2 separate regions of the Homo sapiens genome follow, and region 1 is linked to region 2. Evidence: fine-mapped expression QTL. A gene starts in region 2. The other region holds a variant in brackets. All regions are shown on one strand. Distances are from middle to middle.

Evidence for each region. PIP is the estimated chance that this variant, and not a neighbour inherited with it, causes the effect.
Region 1: its variant is fine-mapped to the expression of APELA in lymphoblastoid cells (GEUVADIS, PIP 0.95).

What each region holds. Positions count from the first base shown.
Region 1 is chr4:164,951,188-164,959,531 of GRCh38, reverse strand. FAM218A (family with sequence similarity 218 member A) reads right to left here and starts at 2,584. Exons shown (of 1, transcript NR_160935.1): 1 at 401-2,584. It also overlaps a transcript of TRIM61 not described here. RefSeq lists enhancers at 2,325-2,484, 2,785-2,834. The variant G/TG (reference allele first, on the strand shown) is at 3,964.
Region 2 is chr4:164,873,394-164,881,737 of GRCh38, reverse strand. APELA (apelin receptor early endogenous ligand) reads right to left here and starts at 4,560. Exons shown (of 3, transcript NM_001297550.2): 1 at 4,331-4,560; 2 at 2,729-2,818. The coding sequence starts at 4,406. The coding sequence ends at 2,730. RefSeq lists an enhancer at 8,228-8,344.

The DNA of each region.
Region 1 (8,344 bases), 78 kb before region 2:
AATGCTGGGCCTAGCACACATTCCCACATCTCACAGCACAAGGAAAATGACTGGCACATCTTCCAAGTCCCCTTTTTCAGGGAACTACCTGGTGATACGCTCACCAAAAGAAGGGAAGAAAACTAAGAAGGAAAACAAGGGACTCAGACAACAATAGACTTAAAACCTCTGGACATAAGACAGAAGATAAAAGATAATTCTTAGGGTAAGGGAAACATGAAAGGCCTCAGAGGACAGCTGTGCATCATATCACCAAATTTCAGTTCATGCTAAGATGACAGAGGGCTTCAGGAGATTGAGCACTATAAAGAAAATGAATATAATCAACAAATTACATGTCGAGTTTAGAAAGGAACTTTAGAGATGAGCAGATATGGGGCTGAAAGAGATAAACAGAAAATGCAGCAAGTAAGAAATCAGGCAATTTTAATCACAATAAAACAAAATTTGTGTATCAAAGAAATTATAATTATAGCACCTAAGTGGCTCAGCTGTGAACAATTATATAGTCATATGAACGTATTAATCCAATTATATTACCATATTTGGATATTTGTGGGGAAAGATAGAGTATGTGCCTGGGTGGTGCGAGAGACCTAAATTCTCAGTTTATCTAATAGAATGTTAATTTAAAATGTCTAACATTAGACATATTACAGTTATGAAGAAATAGCAAGGTCACTGGAATAAATCATGCCTCTGTTTAACAGGAATTTGGTGTAGGATGGCATGACCCAGGAGGTTTTTGTTTTTATATAAGCCTGTTTTGTTGCTGGAATGAACTAATAGCTCTCTACATAATTTTGATAAAATTCATAATGTGGGAAGCATTGAATTATTGACTGTGTAATACCATCTTTCATCTTAGAATATCAAAAGTACTTTACAATTTATTCCCATTACATCTCTGAAGAGTAGGCATTTCTAATACTGTTTTATTGATAGTTGCTAAAATAATGAAAGAAAAAAACTTTCTTCTGCTTGTAAGTGGCAGACAATTCAGAATTGAAGAGCTCCTCTCCTAAATAATACAAAATAGCTTTCAAATAATTCATCCTTCATAATCTATTACTGTACAGGTTATAAGAGGTTAGAAATCATACCCAGTGTGAAACACAGCCTAAGTAGTTTCATAAAAATATCACTTGAAGAAAAGATTTCAGACCTGGCATTCAAGTCATAAGATTAAACCTCATCCCCTTCATTGTCCAGAACAAATCCTAACATTACTGGGTCTTACTTTTAATAGAACGATTGCCACTCTATGTAGTGTAATTACTTTGGCAAAGTTATTACATTTCTATAGCTGAAAACTAAAGCATGAATCCTATTGTGATGGCGTCTTTTTCCATCTCCTGGGAAGACAATTCTAACAAACAACTCTATTATATCTATCCAGTTTGATTTTGTCCTCTTTCTCTTCCTCCTGGTAATAACAGCCTTAATCTTTTTTGGATCATGAGTTTTTGTGGTGTCTTTCCAAATCGCACTGTATTCTATCTTTAGAGATACAAGATTATGACTTGCTGTTTCAGAATCTAGAGTCAGATCTATGTAAAATGAATTAAGAATGTTTTGTCGACCATAATGTTGTGGCAGAAGTCTAGAATCATCATCCCTTGTTAAAATGGAAAAGCTCATAAAGTTTTTGTCTTAATACCTGTTATTGATACATACCCTTATATCAGTTACTAATTATTTGAGTGAATAGTTTACTCTGCTATCTCACTTATTAGAGCTTTAAATAAGAAAATATGGTCTGAAAGTTTTGTTTTCATCTAGTGTGCGTATCATATCCTATTCTTTATATTTTCAGGTTTTCAGAACTGCATCTTATTCATTTTCCGAATAAAGCACAAAGTGCTCAAAATCAGAGTTTAATCTCTTCCTCTAATATTCGACTATCTTCGGTAGCATTCATGTATTTTTAGTTAACATAACGATTGGTTTAGTTTTGGCTTATTTAAAGCATTTTACACTTGCTGTTTCAGATGTCAGATGTCCCCTGTGAGCTTCTTCCTTGAGGCAGCCTGCTCTATAGGACAGGTGAGCCCAGCGGGAGCCAGCCCACTGCAGACCCAAACCCTCTAGTCCTTGTCACAAAAAGAGGCTGGGACCTGATGGTGGTTCTCTTCCTGACTTTTCCTGGTGGTCCTTCTGACTTGGAGTGGCCTGGCAATTTCGGTGGCGTGACAGCCGGAATGCTGCCACTAAAATTCCTCTCTGGGCACCATGAGCGGCTGACAGGGCACGCGGAGAAAACGATTCGCTTCTCCCAGGATTGGTGGAGCGACCGCTGTTGGACGAATGTGGTCGTCCCTGGATGTCTGAGCAAAGAGACACTGCCATGGCGGCCGCCGGTCAGCGTATAAGGTCTGTTAGGGAGACCCGAAGCCCTGCACCAGGAACGCAGTTTGGCTCGCCCAGCCCACCCTGCAGGGCTGGCTCTCCAGGCGCTGGGTCCGGGGAGAAGAGGACAGCTGCCCCGCCGCACCGCGCATCCTTCCATCCACTGTGGTACATGGCGCTGCCCCGGTCTCCAACGTCGCGCCACACCTTCACGGTCTCACCCGGAAGTCGAAGCCCAGAGACGGTGCCGGCCGCACCCAATCACTGCTCTGCCGCTCCGACTTCCGCTACGGACTCGCCCAGCCTCCTGGGAGAAACGCTGCAGTGCTTGGGGTGCTGAAGCCCCTTGAGAGCCTTGTGTTCTGTGAGAAAGTTGCATTCTGAAGGAACCTCAGCTGTTTGCTTTGCTCTTCTGCCACCCAACCCTACCTGTGCCAGACTGAGGGCTCTCCCTGCCCCGCCTTAACAGAAGAGAATTCCAGTTGCTGTTTTAATTTATTGAATCTTATTTATAACTGGTTGGAGAAAAATATGGTTATAATTCCCACTGAACAGCTTATTAAAAGTTACAGTAACACTATGATAATTGAGATATTGTCTTTTAGGGAATAAATAATGAAATTATAAGATGAAATATACAGATGAAATTATAAGATGTCTGGGAATTTACTCCATTGGCAGGAGAAGTTGCTGGGGTTATAAAGATTGTTAATTCAAATGATAGAAATTGGTTTCTTTTTATGTGTACGTTCTTCATAATGTTCTCTCTACTATTATGGATGTATGAAATACTCCACAATTTAAAAGCTTCCTTTTATACCCGGCATGGAAGCTCATGCCTGTAATCCCAGCACTTTGGTAGGCTGAGGTGGGCGGATCACATGAGCTCTGGAGTTTGAGACCAGCCAGGCCAACATGGTGAAACCCTGTCTGTACAAAAAATACAAAAATTAGCCGGACATGTTGGCCCGCCCCTGTGGTCCCAGCTACTCCGGAGGCTGAGGTGGGAGAATCGCTTGAACCTGGGGAGTTGAGGTTGCAGTGAGCCAGGATGGCGCCACTGCACCTCAGTCTGGACGACAGAACGAGAGCTTGTCTCAAAAAAATAAATAAACGAAAGATTTATTTCAAAAGGCTAATCATGTTTCAGCGTTATCAATGCCTCGTTCCAGAAAAGCTCATTTCTCTTACTCTTTTCTTTGAGCCGCCTCCCCGTTTTCAGTCCGCCTCAGGGCTCTCAGATTCTGTCTCCTTTGTCTTCCTCCTCACAGTTGTCCCTAATCTTAATCGATTTTCCATCCTCTACCAATTTCCTGTCTACACCCTCTTTAATCTCATAAAACTGCCAAATTAGTTTAAATCGGGATTGAGGAAAGAGCGAGACTAGGCATTGTGCTTCCATCTGGGTGTGTGTGTCTTGTGTGTGGATCCCAGGCCTGGTCTCAGATTACCTGAGTCATCTGGGGCTGGTCCCTGATATCCTCTCTTCATCCTTTTGTGGTCACATGAAGACAAGGAAAATCAACCTCAATTTCCCTTTAAGTTTTCTGTAAATATAAACACCAATAAAGACATATCTTCTGGAAAACTTGTTTTTTTTTTTTTTTTTTTTTT[G/TG]AGACTGAATCTCTCTTAGTCACCCAGGCTGGACTGCAGTGGCAAGTTCGTAGCTCACTGTAGCCTCAAACTCTTGACCTCAAGCAATCTTCCTGCCTGGGCCTCCCACACTACTCGGGTTGCAGTCTTGAGCCATTGAGCTCAGCCTGGAAAAAATTTTTTAAAACATAGGATTTGGTGTGGCACAGAACTCAATATATTCCAAGAATGGTTTGTGTTTCTGATTCTTCTGTTGACTGTTTAATGGTAGATATGCTGATTATGCAGAACAGTTCAGACATAATTAGATGTAATTAGGGCAAACCAGCATGAGGCCCCTTATGAGAAGTCCAAATCTGTGATTGTCATACAACATACAAAAGAACTGTCTCATATACGATGTCAGAGTAAAGAGTGAACCAAATAGGTTATGTGTAGGACATGTGTATACTACTATAATACCATAATAATTTTTTTTTTTTTTTTTTTTGAGATGGAGTCTCCTTCTGTCACCAGGCTGGAGTGCAGTTGCACGATCTCGGCTCACTTCAACCTCCGCCTCCCGGGATCAAGCGATTCTTCTGCCTCTGGCTCCTGAGTAGCTGGGACTACAGGTGCCCTCCACCATGCCCAGCTAACTTCTGTATTTCTAGTAGAGACAGGGTTTCATCATGTTGGCCAGATGGTCTCGATCTCTTGACCTTGTGATCTGCCTGCCTTGGCCTCCCAAAGTGCTGGGATTACAGGCATGAGCCACTGTGCTGGGCCAATAAAATTTTAAGTAAATATAAAACAGCATATTTATATTTTATTTTTTGTAGAGATGGTTGCCCAGGCTGGTCTGGAACTCCTGACCTCAAGCGATCTTCCTGCCTTGACCTCCCAAAGTGCTGGGATTATAGCCATGCTGCCAACCATGTGTAGGGTATGTATATGTTCCTATACCATAATAAAATTTTAATTACATTTGTAAGGTATGTAATTATATGTATTTCTGTATAATATGTACATATAAATATGCTAATTAATACAAGAACATATTGAATTATAATCAATATATATAATTTTAGATGTATATTGGAATGTTTATCTTTCTAATAATACAAAACTGATGGTTAAAAAATAAAATGCACAAACTCCCCAAGGTTCCTTCCTATGTGGCTACTTTCCCCAGCTTAGGTCCAGCCAAAGGCTGCACGCCCTTTACTGAGTGTAGCTCACCTGTGCCTCCTGGTGCAATCCTCACTCAGATATTCTGCTCCCAGTAGAGGGTTAGTGTAGGGTGCGGAGCCTACCTGTATTCACTTGTCAGCAGTTCACTGGGGATTGTCAGCTTTTTCCATCCTTGCAGAGCTGTTTCTTCGTCGATCCAGGTCAGAAGACGCAACACAGTCCCTACTTCTTGTTCACCAAAATGGTGACCTCAGAACGAATTCAGTCTTAAACCCTGTAGGGAGTTTTTTTTTCCTTATGCAGTCAGCATGGGGGAAGTGACAGGTCCCAGAGGGCAGTTCTCTCTTGTTCTCTGATTGCTCCTGCAGGGTCCTGGGTTGGTGAAGGGGACAGGGGTAGGGACCTGCAGAATGGTTGTGATGGGGTGGGAGCTGCGGAAGTAACACATCATGCACTGAGTGGAGCATAAGGGCAAGTGCTGGGTTTTTTTGTTTCACTTTTTTTTGGACACAGGATGTTGCTCTGTCACCCTGTTGTGCAGTGATGCAGTCATGGTTCACTGTAACCTGGAACTCCTGGGCTCAAGCAATCCTCCAGCCTCAACCTTCCAAATAGCTAGGACTGCAGGCACACATCACCATGCCCAGCTAATTTTTAAAAATTATTCTTTTTGAAGAAACGGTGTCTCACTATGTAGGCCAGGCTAGTTTGGAACTCCTGGCCTTATCCTCCTTTCTTGACCTCCCAAAGTGCTGGCATTACAGCCATGGCTCCCAGCCAGTCTTTTGTTATTCATAATGAGCCCCTTTGGATCAACTGGATTTATGCTAATGAGGTGGGTTGGGTTGGGGCCCCAGGGTAGCCTCAGGATAGGGCTACTCACAGAAGACCAAGTGATTAGAACTTTCAGTAGGATGGTGGGGGGACCTGGAAAATAAACTTTATACAAATTCTTGAAGAAAGTAATATGAGGAGCTTTGAGATTTGTGAACACCTTGAGGTGCGGGGAGGGTGGACCACCCAGAGAGGGAATGAAACTATATTTAAATATTAAATGTGATACCTATACTGCACTTACACTTTTAAAATCGTTCTTTTAGTGATTTATTTTAAGATATAGATAAAATGATATGATGTATGAATACTGCATTAAAATGATTTGGGGAAGGTAGAGCATGATCTTGATAAAATAAAATTGACCATAATAATTATTGAAATTGTGTAATGGATCTATGGGGGTTGGGGTGATCTATTGTACAATTATGTCTCTCTTTCTGCATGTTGGGACTTTTCCATAATATCCCAATAATTAAACTGAGATCATACAGCATCCTAATTATTGTTGTGTCAACCCCACATGGGAAAAATTGAACACCCATCAAATTTAGTCCAGATATAAAGACTGATTATGCCACACACCCACACACACACTAGAAGGATAGGAACAGGTTTGTTTCTCACATGCTGGGGTGTTGAAGGAGAGCAGCACAGGCCTGTAGGTGGTCTGTAAATGGACTGTGAGAGCAGAGAAAGAAGACGGGCTTGGTGTTTTTCTTCAGGTTAAGGTGTGGGCAGGGTGAGGGATCACTCATTCACAATGAAAGTTGCCTGGTTTGAATCTCTTTCCTGCCCTGAAGGAGGGAGCACCTGGGCTTTCTTGGCAGGTTGCCCAAATGTGCGGCCAAAGAAAAAAATGGAGGAGTGACGATTAAAAGTTATCAAGGGTGAAAAACTGTAAAAATGGATTTGAACTATTTTGTAGGATTCCCCCACACCCTGATGTTTAACTGTTGATTAGATGCACCATGTTTCATTTCATTGAATTTGAACTTGTTTGAGTAAGCCTTTATGGTGCTTAATGAAGCTGACAGCTTAATCTAGTAAGGGAAGTTACAATTCCATTGAATGCCTTCTTCAGGACCCCAGCATTGCATATTCTGGGAAGTGAAATGAGTCTTTGGTCCCTCTCAGTAATGTCTGGAACTCCAAAGGAGTTCCAGATCCTGTTGAGGTTTCGTATTGTGGCCTTAGTGTATATAGAGAAATGTGTGACCTTGAGTTAGATTTTGGATATTTGTGAGGCAAGAATTCTTTACTCTGAAGCAGGTAACTCCAAGGCTATGGCTCCATAGTTAGTAAAACTGCATATTGGGCTGATCATTGGTCAGGGGCTCCAATTCTGAGAAGATGGCCTGAAGTTCCATCCATTGACTGACCTTGGAGTCCTTTTGCTTGTTAAGAATGTCCTGATTAATAAATGAAAAGTAGTAAATCCCTACTGAGCTCATCATGCATGGCAATGGTTATGCCATCCTTACAGTGTATAAACCCCCACTGCTGTTTATCATTTGATCCCGGAGGTGTGAGGGGGAGGTCTCTCAGGTAGCCAAAGGACCTAAGAGAGGAGCCATCTCCTAAACCCAGTGGCATGTGGCAGGGACTAAGGACAAGGTAGGCAGGCTACCCCTTCCTGTGGATGAAATATGGCAGAGGGCCTGCGTCTGGCTCTATGATGTAACAAGGATTCCTCCTATACCTGTGCTGAACTAGCAGGGTGCTGCTTCTAGAATCCAAGGCATGCTGAGCAACTGAGTATGAAGAGTTAGAGGCTCAGTGCCTGTGAGAGCTTAATGTACTACAATTTAGAGTCTGTAGGCCTTTCGTGGAGGGGGCCCCATTAAAGATGGGTGGATTTGGAAGTAACAGCATAAGTGACCTTAAGCAAAATTTATAAATGATGAGTATGTTTCCTCCAGAATCCAAAAAGTGTTAAAGATACTGGGCTTGTTTTCACATTGTGGGCATTGAAAGGTTTTATAGCTGTTTCTCCACAGTGTCAGAGATGGAGTTGCTTTCAGTTTACCAAATAATTTTCAGGCAATTAATCGAATAAGAGGCTTGCACTGTATGGGGGAAATGACCCATTCCCTTTGTGTAAACTCTTTTGTGAGTATTTTCATGGCTTGAATGAGTGTTTCAAATGGATCACCATGGAGGAGAATGTCATCCATGTAAATCATACCTGCTGTTCTGGAAGAAGTTGAATGAAGTTGGAATCTTCCCTACAAGGTCTGTGTGCAAAGGCAAGACTGCTGAGGTGCCCACGATTAGTGGGTAGAGATGCATAAAATTCCTTTGAGGTAAAGGGAAAGCATGGCCAGGAAGCTGTAGAAATAGGCCTGAAAAAAACTAGCCAAATCTTTAGTAGCCAGATATTTACCACTTGCTG
Region 2 (8,344 bases):
ATAAATAAAAGCATTGATGTGCTGAGATTTTACTGTTGGAAGGGAGAAGTCATTCCAGCCTTAAGTCGCGACCTCATTTTCCACTCTAGGGCCCTCACATTAACCTGTAGACTTGCATTTCCTGACACCCCTTCCCTTGCTCTCCTTCACTCTAAATCACTTAGGACTGAAGGTGGTGCCAAAATATTTCTGAGAAAAAAAAATCAAGGAAATGAACGGCATACAGCATGTAATTTTCTGTGTAATTAATTCAGTTGCATAGGCTGGGATCATTGAGGATGACCCTAGGAGCTGGAAAAATTGACAGAGTAAAGATAATATGACATTTCTATTAAAAGAGCTAAAGGTCTGAACACTCTAATAAAGGGTTAATCTGGAAAACTTTCAAAGTCAATTGTTTACCTTACCTATCCTTTTACAAAGTCTTACTTGATCCTAACTGATCAAATAACCACATGTGATTTTATCTAAAGCATCCAAAAAATTAGAGGGGAAGAAGTGAAAGGGGTGTTTTGCCTTAGAGTCCACTACCTAGGTTTACAGTACATTTACCCAGTTATCAAAGTGCCTTTGTTGCAAAACATATAAAAAATGGGAAAGTATTTAGGACAGTGAGAATTATGTTATCAGATCTGAAGGTAGCACTTGTTATTATAGTGCTGGTTGAGCAAGGTCTTGAAAAATTTTCTAATGTTTATCTTACATTAACTCTTACAGTAGATTCCAACAGGTGACTTTTAAACATTCTTCAAAGAACAGTAGCTGAAATGTAGAACGAGTCTAAAACTGAGAAAATGGATGCTGTCACCCAAGCAGTTTTATAAGCTCTCAGCCAACTTTTGTAAAGAGTTGCTATTATTAAGTAGTTTGCATAGCTTTAATTAAATTTCCCTTTGGTTTACAAACTTGATTTGTAAGTCAAAATTCCCCTCAACTTTAAAAATTCAAATTTCACTATTCATGCTTACTTGTAACACTGGTTTTTATGGTATGTGATTTGAGGATAATATGTGGCTATCTAAAGACTTGTGTTTATATTTTGCAAGGTATCTTTCTTTGTATATGCAGGAATTCTCTTGCTATTGTGAAATGTGTCCTCTCCTCTTTGTTATTTATGAAGGAGTGCTGGAAAAATCTGGGGTGTCTCTATTCCTCTTAAGCACAGATTTTTACCATTATTTCATACATGACACTGAAATGCTCTGCTGGAAGCATTATCAACACACACCAAAGGATATTTTAACACAGAAAATCTTTTTAAAGCATGTTTCAATCACCATTAATTGGCTTCTCAGAAACCTCCTACTGTATCTTTCTGGATTCCTCCACCAAAGCTATTTTTCATATTTTGATAACAAAGATTAATTTGTTACAGATATAGACATAGAGAACTTGACATTTTTGTCTCAATCCTTTTGATAAATGTTTATTATGAAATTGCTCCTCCTTCATTTAATTTTCTACTACAGGGCTTTCCCCGGGTTTGGAAAGCATGCATTAAACAATAGATACAGCAACTGTTCTTTCCACTGAATGAATGGAACCGTAAAAGCTACTCTACAGGCCAACTGAATAAGCTAATTTTGCCATTGCCTGTGTATGTTAACCAGATGAGGGATATTTCTGTGGCATTTTTTAAGGAAGCTATATCTTAAATGAATTAATGAGCTTGAAATACTTACAATGGAATGCCAAACTGTGTATTTTTTAGTATGAAGTGACTTAAACTTGGACAGTGTTTGAAGTTAACTGATTCAAGCAGTATTACCAGTAATTGTGGTGGTCTAACATTATTTAACAAGTGTAAAAACAAGAAAAGGGAGGAGCAAAACTCTACCAGAATTTATCCTTAAGATGTGACTATCAAGATCACTACTATTGGTGAGGCTGGAAAGCTGCCATTTTATTAGTGTTAACTTTACTTTATCTATTAAAAGAAATATTTTCAGAAAAAATAAATAAACCCTGAGGGCAAATAATAGTTGAATAGGAATATGAAGTGTGGTGGCTTACATCTGAAATTCCAGCACTTTGGAAGGCCAAGGCGGGTGGATCACTTGAGGCTAGGAGTTCGAGACCAGCCTGCGCAAAATGGGGAACCCTCATCTCTACAAAAAATACAAAAATTACCCAGGAGTGGTGGCGCATGCCTGTAGTCCCAGCTACTTGGGGGGCTGAGGTGGGAGGATCACTTGAGCCCGGGAGGTTGAGGCTGCAATGAGCTGGGATCACATCATTACACTCCAGCCTGGGTGACAGAGCAAGACCCTGGGGGAGAGGGGAGAGGTAAGAGGAGAGAGGAGGAGAGGAGGAGAGGAGGAGAAGAAAAGAAACCCCGAAGTATTGATGGTAGTTCATTGCTGGTATGGGGCTGTTGGGTGAATACATCCAAATGCTTTCATACACACTGGTCTTAATAGGGGAATCGGCTCGTTCTGCATAACATCCGCAATAATATTAGCCCCCAAATAGCTGTTACTCAGATTCAACAGTTATCAAGATTTTCCTACATTGTCCTCATCTGTCTAATTTTCTTCCTTAACTATTAAAGCAATTCTCAAAAGTCATGTCATTCATTTAACTCTTTCATTTATTGGTATGCATCTCTTAAGTCTTGACATTGCCATAAGCCATTATCACATATTACAAACTGTGAAGAAACATTTCCTGGTATATCTAATTTGGAACACTGCCTAAATGTAGCGAATCTATTTTCTGTCAGAAATACCTCAGGGAAAGGGTACTCGTGAATGGAGAGGCATACATCTCCTCTGAAGGCAATTGTGTTTGCGCAGTTTTCTTCTCATGGTCAAATTAACTGAAGGAAAAAGAGAGAAGTATTAGGAGCATTTTTCAGAGGCTTAATTGTTGTTTAATCTAGACAATGCAAACATATTTTGGAGCCAAACTAGATTGTGGTTATTTGCCATTTGTTCAAATGTGATTATAAAATTAAAAACCAATGTGATGCATATACACAAGGGGTGTTCCTAACAGTTAATGTTAATAGCAAGATCTTCTTTTACTCCTATTTTTTTAACTCCATCGTTGAGCAACATAGCAACATCTTAATAGTAATATCCTCCTCCTTTTGAATGATTTTTTCCTAAATGCTCCTAGACCTTTTATTTTATGTAGTAAATTAATCACAAATATTTTGTAAGAACATTGTCAAAGCTACTGTGTATTTCTGAAAAGTATAAATGGTTTGAATAGTGACTGCTGTAAACAATGAGAAGGGATCAAGCTGCTTTCTCAGAGTTGCTGAATTGGAACTTTTTTCTTACTTATGTAAAAGCACAGACCAGGGGACATCATTCGAAATAAACTCACAGTGATCAAACTTCTAATTCACTAAAAAGCAAAGTCTGAATTTTTAACAAGTGATGCATCGTTTTCTGTTCTAACTGAAGAAGTATATTATCAAGTGAATAATTTAACATATTTGGATGTAAATATTACCACCTTTTTATTTAAAGTTGGGTTTGTGGTTCAGAAAACTTTAACTTTCTAATTTCTTTCTTTCTTTCTTTCTTTCTTTTTTCTGTTTCTTTCTTTCTTTCTTTCTCTCTTCTTTTCTCTCTTTTCTTTCTTTTTTTTTTCAAACTTACTGGTTCTTTGAAATCTTAGCTGTTTGGTTTTGAAGTAAAAGTACATTAGAATACTTTTGTGTACTAAATTTCTGTTGGTTAAGTACAATATACTTGATATCATCTTTGAAAACATGTCAAGTAAATTAATATTATGTATCTTTATCATACATATTTTTGATGCTTTTTAGCTGTATAAGCATAATAATAAAAACTGCACTTATTTGTTTTAAGTGACATGCCTAGTTACATAATTAGAAATGACAGCTATTGACCTGTTTTAAGATTTAATCTGCATTTTGTTGCATTATGCTTTTTGTATGTTAATTCAGCCCCTACTCTGGGCAGCAACATACTTTTTAAATAAACTGCTTTGGAGTTTGCATTTTACCTAAAAATCTATACATTTATTTACCTTTATAATGAATAGACGAACACTTCTGTTTCATTTTACTTGTAAAGACAACATAATCTGCAATAGCTTAGAGATCTATTTTCTTGGCATTTAGGAAAAATAGTGGTAAAATACTTATCATTTCAAAGTCCAGATGTTTTTAAAATATTGAAATAATAGACCCAACAGGATAGATAGCATACTTTCAAAATCCTACACATTTATCCCCAATACTACTAACTGCAAGCACACCTAAGTGGTTTTCAGATAAACACAATCATGCTCAGAGACCCAGGGATGCAAACAGGCAAAACAAGTTACTTGTACAAATGTATCAAAGGCCTACCTGGTCTCTGTCCGCTGATAAGGAGAAGACTCATAATAAAAATAAAAAATGCAAAAAGGAATTGCTGAAATCTCATTTTCCTACCGCACAAAAGTAGAGCAATGACTCTCAATGTAAACCAAACGATCTGTAAATAGTCTGTGCAATATCTGTGTGGCTGTCTTCACATTCTAGTGACAAACCTCAGAGAACTGCCAGCTGTGTTTTGCAGGAAGGTTAATGATCACATTAGACAAAGTTGCCGGTGCTCTGTGCTGTGGTCAGAGCCTCCCTCAGCCTCAAACCCCTCCTCCACTCCTCTTCTCCTTTCTCCTCGGCCACTCCCCTTTATTTCCATAAGCAAATATTGGTGAAATAAACCATTCAAGCATGCTATAACTTTAGTGGAAGTGTACTCCAAAAGCTCCAAGAAGAGAATGACTTAAATTCAATCTGGATATGAAGAAATACGTAAAACAAGACGTGACACTGCCTCCTCCCCTTACCATTTGCATCTGTTTAAACTTTGCCCATATTGGTCCCACATGCAGAAACCAGTGGAAATGACAGGAAGTCTCTCTTTTGTCTTTTTCAGAAGGAATTCTGAAGCTCTAACATAAGAGTCCCAAATGCTTTGTGGCAGAACATGTGCTGAAATGCTTTATCTTTACCAAACTTACTGCAAAGTAGTGCCTGTTTACACGAACTCTCCAAATTGCCTAATTCACTGGGTTTGTAACAGTAAAGATTTTTGGAATTTAGAATGTTTTGAAATAAATCTGCAAAACATATACATTTATATTAATATTTTGTAAAGTGCAGTTTTAAAAGTAACAGATTATTTTCATCTGCAAATGTCCAGGATTTTAAAAAAGGAAGTTCAGGCAAGCCACAAACTCATGAAATCTGTGTTCGGTTAAAAATTTATATGTGGTGGAATACCAGGCTAACATACCACAGTCACAGAAATTGGAGATGGAGAAAACAAGTCTTAGTTCATCTCCCAGTGAATTCAGAAAACACAAAAACAGTCTAGCCTTGTCTTTTACACACATGCACCAAGATCTCTTTTTGTTTCAAGTGCTCCCTTATATATCAGATACAGCTGTTATAAATGGAAATGACTATACTTATTATGTAAGTATAATAAATTCCATTTATAACATCCATATCGAACATATTTTAGGTAAAATGCAAAATGCCAAAAGAATAGTATAGGTATGCCTTGAAACACAAGTACAGCCAAAGTACTAGCTCTAAAGCATGTGTAATTTGTTTTGAACCATTAGGAATTTTGTTGTATTTGGCTTCTTTAGACTCAGGTAGTTGGTACATAACCTTGGGGCTTCCTGAGGTTTGAATTTAATGCACAATTTGTCTTGATTTTATAAGTCAATCTGTAAATTTCCCTGCCTGTCTAGTTAGGCATGAAGTTTATAATAGGCGATGGCATACAAAAATTCTTAAATTCACTTTATTGAAGTCTTGAGAATATATTGACCTGTTTGGGGACTGCAAGCATAGTGTTAAAGGGTCCTACTTTACCATGCTGTCCATTGCTTCATAAAATCAATGGAATACAATAGAGTTTGAACTCATGATATACAAGTGACTTAAGAATGGCAAAGAGTTTATTCAGATTTTTAAATCCCTCCCCATTTCCCGCCCCAGTCTTCTTAGTACAGCATTCAGGAAAACAGCATGCTAACAAAGTTGAATGTTAAATCAATAAGAGATCAATATAGATTTTGGCACTATATTTTCAGGCCAAGTTTTAAGTCTATTCAAAGGTTTAGTAGTGAGTCTTTATAGATAAGATAGAGACCTACCACAGAGAGCAAATATTGACTAAAATTTTTATATTTCATTACCAGGTGATCAACAATGAATTCCTAGAATATCACTAATATGCACCAGTGCTGTGGAAGATACATATCTCCACTGATCAGGACAGAGCAAACTGTTATATTTAAGTCATCTAACCACATAGAACATTATTTTTCTCATTAAAAGAAAAAAGATGTGATAAAATACCTGGTTTTCTACCTGAAAGAGTGATTATGTATTAAACTCATGAAAATTTACACATGATTTATTTACATGTTTTAAAATTAGTCTTTCAAAAAGACAAACAAAAAGATGTTGTTTAAATAGTTGACTTTTGGAGTATAGTAATAAAGTGATTATACAGTCAATGAGCAACTGAAATGTTAGACATGGAGGTACAATGAAAAGTGATCCAGCATTTCTGTGGAATGTGAGTCAACAATAGCAATAAATCATTCATCTTAGTACTGAATAACTAGGTATGGAGAAATATTGGTAGGAAAGTGTCAGAACAATGCAACTGGCTCTGCAAACAGCACTTTCAGCCTGCAAGTATAAGAGAACAAGGCATCTTCTTTGTTTACAGGAACACAAACCTAGACTTCTATCCTACAGACAGCCTTTGTGAGGGAGGCAAGGGCTGTGCCCCGGGCCAAATCCTATGTTAAGTGTGTTGCATATGTTACTTCGCATAATCCTCCCCAAAACACTCTGAAGTATCATGACTCCCTGTTTACCAGATGAGAAAACTGACAGCTAAAGAGGTGTAGCCTCCAAGGGCTAGATGACCGGAAGAGGAATAGATGGGATCCAAATTCCATAATCTCAGCCCTCAAACATTTCGCTATCCTCCCTTTTAAGGCCCCAATCCCAGTTCTTAAAAAAGAAAAAAAAAAAAAAAAAAAAAGCCTATTGAAGCTATTATAAAACAAAAGATAAGTTAGCAATATATTTCTTGTACGAGGTTGAATATTGTGCCCCATAAAATTTATGTCCATCTGGAACCCAGAATGTGGCCTTATTTTGAAATAGGGTCATTGCAAATGTAATCAGTTAAGATTGAGGTCATACTGGAGTAGGGTGGGTCCTAAATCCAATATGGCGGCTGTCCTTATAGCAAAAAGAAGAGACAGAGACACACAGGGACAGGTGGGGAGGAGCTCTGTGATGATAGAGGCAAAGATGAGAGTTATGCTACCGTGAACCAAGGAACCAATGCCAAAGATAGCCAGCAACCACCAGAAGTTAGGGGAGAGACATGGAACAAAATCATTCTCTGAGTTTCCAAAAATCAACACTACTGACACTTTGATTTTGGACTTCTAGCCTCCTGAATTTGAAAGAACAAATTTATGTTATTTTAAGCCACCCAGTCTGTGGCACTTTGTTATAACAGCCCTAGGAAATCAATACATTTCTGTACCTACATATATTCTATAAGGATATAAATATTCTCTGTATAATCCAATAAATATATACTTATTTTATAGTAGTATACTATATATGCCAGGTATTTAACAAATGTTATTTTGTTTACACATCATAATCTTATGATGTAAGCTCTATCTTCATTTTACAGAAAAGGCAACAAACTCAGAGGATTAAGTGATTTGCCCCAGATAAAATAGCTCATAGCAAAGTTAATATGAGGCCTGTGTCTCTCAGTCCTGGGCCTCTTATCTCTTTGATTTGGATCTTGTGCCCTAACTTTTCCTAGGATATCCTTCCCAATTGATTTCATCGTTGCCACTTGCATCTTCAGTCTTTCCTTCTTTTTTATTTTTTATTTTTTTGAGACAGAGTCTCACCCTGTCGCCCAGGCTGGAGTGCAGTGGCGCAATCTCGGCTCACTGCAAGCTCCGCCTCCCGGGTTCACGCCATTCTCCTGCCTCAGCCTCCTGAGTAGCTGGGACTACTCGCCACCGCGCCAGGCTAATTTTTTGTATTTTTGTAGAAACGGGGTTTCACCATGTTAACCAGGATGGTCTCGATCTCCTGACCTCGTGATCCACTCGCCTTGGCCTCCCAAAGTGCTGGGATTATAGGCGTGAGCCACCGCACCTGGCTTCAGTCTTTCCTTCTTTACTGCATCCCTCTCTCCCTATAAAAGTACTCTTTCCAACCTAAAATTTCTCTCCCTTTGCCCATTATCATTCAGCTAGATGTCTGAAATAGAGTCCAAGCATTAAACTAACCTCCCTTCCTTCC